2 separate regions of the Homo sapiens genome follow, and region 1 is linked to region 2. Evidence: fine-mapped expression QTL. Tissue or cell type: whole blood. Region 2 holds a variant in brackets; the other region holds the start of a gene. All regions are shown on one strand. Distances are from middle to middle.

Region 1 (2,757 bases), 88 kb after region 2:
AATAAACTGAGTGTTTCCAAAAGAAAATTTCACAACCCGCACAAATGCCATTTCCAAATTTAACTAACCATGGCTAATACTTAGAAGTGTAAGCGTTAACACAGGAAAATCAGCATGAGGGACAAAATACACACACATATACACTCACACACACACACACAATCCTTAAACACTGAACTAGGGCGCCAGCCTCATGTTTAAATATCTCAACTTGAACTCCACTGAAACAAGAGGAAATTCTCACTAGCCAGGCAGCAGTAAGGCTTTTGTGGACACCTCTTATTTTCAAAGAACCCTCTTTTTAAAAAGTTGAAAATTAATTTCTAACTGCTTTAAAGGGCGCATGACTGGGTCAAAAGATAAACACAGAAAGTGTAGGACACTCTCAGGCGGGAGCAGCGCAGGTTTAGCCCCGGCCGGAGGGGAAGGAGGGAAATGAGTGAGGGGTCAGAGACAGGAGGAAAGACGCGGGAGACGCGGCACCCACCGGCGAGCAGCCCGGGCTAGGCCGAGCCCGCGCCCAGCGCCCCGCGCCCGCCGCGTCCCCCACACCGGGAACTGCCCGTACCTGTCCGACACGCCGGGATGCGCTGCGGGGCCCGCGACGCCGGCGCCTCTCACGGCGCCGCGTCCGCCGCCCGCGAGCCAGGAAGCCACCGCGGCCTGCGGCTTCCCGCCACCGCCGCCCGTTCCTTCTTCCAGGGACACGGCGAGCTGGCTGAAAGCGTAAAGGAGCGAGCAGAAGCCGCAGGCCACACACAGCACCACGACGCGCAGGTAGCGCCGCATCGCCCCGGCCGCGCTCCTCCTTCGCCGCCGCCGCCGCGCCCGCCCCGACGAACTGGAGCGGAGGGAGGGGCACCGCGCAGCCGCGGGCGCAACAAGTTCCTCACCCGCAGCCGCCGCCGCCGCCTTGCGCCCGCTCCCTTCCTTCCCTCCCCGCCCACCACCTAGGCGAGCGCAGTCGCGGCTCCGGAGCCGAAGGACTACCCGCCCGGAAGCCTGGACACCGCCTCTGCCGCCGCGCGCTCAAGGGTCAGCGGCAGCGACGCAACCCCGCCCCTCCCCCGGGCGGGAGGGCTGGACGCGCCGGCGCAGTTCGCGTGGGAGGGACGCAGGGCTGGCGCGCAGAGGGTGGTGTGAGTGCGCGGAACGCGGCGCGCCTGAGGGCTATAGCTAGCGCAGGCCGACGCGCAGGTGAATGGGAGCCCTGTGGGTCTCGACCGCCGAGAGAGGGGGAGCGAAAGCCTCAGGGCTCTGGAGGCAGTTGACCTAAATTCTAATTATGGTCCTTCCACATGGTAGTTTGTGACATTGGGCAACCTAAATTCTCTGAGCATGTTTCTTCGTCCCTAAAATGGAGCTACTATCCTCATCATGGGGTGGTTGTAAAGATTAAACTGTTTAACGCTCGAAAACCGCCTAACACTTAGAAGACACTTGACTAGGCCAGTTTCCTCTCCATCCTCCCCCAGCCTCTAAGTTTCTGTGATACTATAATGTGCACGAGCCATTTTCACCCCGATAAGCTCATTGCTTCGTGTGTTTGGTATGCGGACCTTACCTCTTGCCTCCCAGCAGACAGTGAGTTCCTGTAAGGCAGGGCTCTTCCCTTTGACCTTTTTGACCTCCCTCACAACTCATTATTTTCATGTGCAAAACAATTAGTATTCTCTCCACAGAGCTTCTTTCTTCCCCAGTTCTTCTCCCTCTTCTTCTGTGTTTCCACTACGTTCATTCATTGACCATTTATAAAGCATCACTTGTGCCAAGCTCTGTGTGAGTACCTAGGGGTATAAAGAGGCCTAAGTGGAGCGTGGGTGGGACAGCGGATACTTGTAAATAAGCGCAACGCAGTGATAACAGACTTAAGATCCAGGCCTGTAAGGGTGTGGGCATACACACAAAGGAACAATCAGTTCTATCTGTGAGTATGGTCAAGAGAGACTTCATAGCAAAGGTGGCGCTAGAGTCTTGAGTCGGGTAAGGGAAGTAATTCCAGGCTGAAGGATCAATAAACAGGCTCTTGTGTAGGGAACTGTTGAGAAGTTTGATACCACCAGCTAAGTGAATGCAAGAGAGGGTATGATGAGCGATAAGCGCGTAGAAGGGGCCAGATATTTGAGTGCTTTGTTTAGCACACCAAGGAGTTTGAATTTAATCTGCAAGACATTAGTGAACCATTGAAGGGTTTTTAAATAGGGAAGTAACATGATCACAATTGCATTTTAGAGAGCAGATTCTGGCTGTAGTGTGGAGGCTGAAACAGAGAGAGGAGAGATTGGAGGCAGAAAGCAGCACCAGTGCCAAAAAGTGAGGGAAGGGATACTTAAAAATACACACACACACGAACACACATTCATGGGGAAAAATCATGCGTTTAACTGCTGAAATTGCATCTGGGGCGTTGAAAAGTTTGGCCATGAGATACAAGGTGGGGAAATGCTGCGCAAAATAGTAGCAGTCTCCATTTGGATCCTTGGCTCCCTATACCAAAAAAGTAGTGGTTCTGTGACCATGATAAAGTCACTAAACAAATTTAAGGTTCAACTTCCTCCCCTTCTTGCTTTACCTGATAAAAAATGAACATTAGCATGCTATCAAGATGTGTAAAGAGAATGAGAACATACATTTATGCATTCAATAAACATTTATTGAACATATTCTACATGCCAGACAAGGGGCTCTGATGCAGAGTATTCAGAAATAAAAGGAGTGTACTGCTCTCAAAGGGAAAACAGGCAAATAGAAACCACA
Region 2 (2,757 bases):
CGCCTCTGGGAAGTCACATCACCTGTTCTGTCACCCTGCCCTCTCTAGCTCTTAGCTTTGCCACACTCATCTCCATTCTTTTCCTAAACATCAGGCTCCTCAATATTCCTAATCCTAATCCTACTCAACATTCTCTATCTCCTCCTCAGCATTTGTATTGGCCAGTGTAGCTCTTTCTCTTTTAAAAAAATTTTTTAGATTGATTCTTGGTTGGCATTTTATTTATTTTATTACTTTTTTTTTGAGACAGGGTCAGCCAGGCTGGAGCGCTGTGGCACAATCTTGGCTCACTGCAGCCTCCACCTCCTGGGATCAAGCTATCCTCCCACCTCAGCTCCTGAGTAGGTGGGACTACAGGCTCACACCACCAAACCCAGCAACCCAGACACCTCGCCACAAGCTCTCGCTCATATTTCCCTGAGAGCTCCAAATTCTTCACCCACACCAGAGCTTAGGGAGAACTGGTTAGTAGCTCTTTCTTGATCCTCCTCCCTTCAGACTTTCACTTCCTCAGCTTCCCTCACAATTGGGCAAGGTCTAATTCATATAATCACTTCCTTATTCTGTGACATTTTTGGTGGCTTTGCTTCCCTGACTGAACACCGACTGATAAAATGGCAGAGGAGGAAAAACAATTTCCCTCTACCTTTCTAAGTTCAGCAGCTGGGGCCCTGCCAATAAAACTGATAAAAGACAGATTAATAGGAGAAAAGGCATACAAATGTTATTTGATATTAATATGTTTACATGTACATGGAGGCCTTTGTAAAAAAGAAATGAAGATTCAAAGAAGCAAATAGGCTTGAGCACTTATATACCATTTCAACAAAGAATGCTAAATTCTGGAGCTATGACAGGTCAAAGGAAACGGAGGCAAGGGAATGTCCTAGGGGTGGTAAATGTGAGGCGTAAATATATGAGGAAATTAATGGTAAATAAAGGTTGTTTAGTAAGATTTGTTCTGCAGATTTGTCTTGGTGCATCTCAGGGCTGATAAGAGTTCTAGAGTCCTCTCAAGTAATTAAGAGTCCTGGTGATTAAGAGTTGTTCTCCTGGGAGCTGTGGCTCAC[A/G]CACCTGTAATCTCAGCACTTTGGGAGGCCAAGGCAGAAGGATCATTTGAGACCAAAAGTTCAAGACCTGCCTGGGCAACATAGCGAGACCCTGTCTCTACAAAAATAAATTAGCCAGGTGTGGTGGTGCACACCTGTAGTCCCAGCTACTCAGAAGACAGAGCGAGACCCCATCTCTTAAAAAACAAAAAGAGTGATGTTCCCCTTCCTGTGTCCACGTGTTCTCATTGTTCAATTCCCACCTATGAGTGAGAACATGTGGTGCTTGGTTTTTTGTCCTTGCGATAGTTTGCTGAGAATGATGGTTTCCAGCTTCATCCATATCCCTACGAGCTGATGGGTGCTGCACACCAACATGACACATGTATACATATATAACTAACCTGCACGTTCTGCACATGTACCCTAAAACTTAAAGTGTAATTTAAAAAAAAGAGTTGTTCTCTTCTTTCTGGTACAAAAGAGGTAAACACCTTTACAAGTAGAAATTTATGTCCTGCTTTTAGTCAGATGGAGGAGGGCAGAGAGTTTTTTCTGCATAAGCTATTTCTTAATTGCCTTCAGCTCAAAATAATCCTCATGCCAAAGTGGCATATTCTGGTTCCCTTCACAATATATGTATGTGTGTAGAAAAATGTCTGAAAAGATACATACCAAATGTAAACCCTGGTTATCTCTGAGCTTATGTGAATTTTTTTACCTTTTACTCATTTGTATTTCCTAGTTTTTAAAAGAATAACTGTGGGTTAACTAAGCTGAAATGATTAAAGACAGAAAAATTTCTATTTACATTACAACAATTGAGTAACAACCCATTCTTAAACAAGAACCTTGGTAGGAATGAATGGGACACAAACTACCTGGCATTCATATGAGAACCTTCTCTTCAATGTAGGCAGCCTGAAGTACTCAATTTATTCCCTGAGATGACTAAGGAATCTCTGAAATACTGTGGATATTTGTTAAAAAAGGAAAGACAGAATTATTATACCTTTTCAAACTTTTGATTCACTTTCACATTTCTTTACTGAGTCTTTTCCCACCCTGGCAAGGTAGATATATAAATCTTAGTTTTACAAAGAGAGGGACTGACACATAGGACAAAAAAGAGTCAACTAAAGAATTTATAATACAAATGTTTTATGCTTAATGTTTTTCTAAAACCATTGCAAATAAAGATTAAGGTATTTGTGGACATAGGCAAATTCTGTATGTGTTTGGTCAATCTTGGCAAGGAAGTGGTTGTCAAGGATTTTTTGTTTGTTTGCTTTCACAAGGCAGACTGATTTATCTGCAGGCAAAGTGGAAAGTGTTTAGAATAATTGATATGCTATAAAGTATTCATAATTAATAATTATTATAAATTAACTTCATAAATAACATTTTGGCACAAAAGAGTTGGCAAATGATCAGCAGATTTGACAATTCTTTAAAAATGAACATTGTAGCAAATGAATCTGTTGTGTGTAGCATGTAATTACAGTGCTGTGGATAAGGTGCTAAGCTATCAAAAGGAAAAGTATGCTCTAAATTGGCCTCCTGGAGCATGAGGGTTGTGAGAAGCACATTACAACACTCTAATAAATTACCCATGTCACCAGCTTGGGCAACATAGTGTGACTTCATCTCTACAAAAAAAATTTTTTAATTAGCTGGGCATGATGGCACACACCTGTAGTCCCAGCTA

The links. PIP is the estimated chance that this variant, and not a neighbour inherited with it, causes the effect.
Region 1: it holds the start of GXYLT1, and the variant in region 2 is fine-mapped to the expression of GXYLT1 in whole blood (INTERVAL, PIP above 0.99). The same link has a PIP of 0.9 or more in lung.

The regions. Positions count from the first base shown.
Region 1 is chr12:42,143,858-42,146,614 of GRCh38, forward strand. It overlaps GXYLT1 (glucoside xylosyltransferase 1), which reads right to left and starts at 1,017. Exons shown (of 8, transcript NM_173601.2): 1 at 569-1,017. The coding sequence starts at 789. RefSeq lists silencers at 405-634, 715-1,214 and an enhancer at 1,375-1,444.
Region 2 is chr12:42,055,825-42,058,581 of GRCh38, forward strand. No RefSeq gene overlaps it. Among named protein-coding and RNA genes, the nearest start is that of GXYLT1, 88 kb to the right of the region's middle. The variant A/G (reference allele first, on the strand shown) is at 1,071.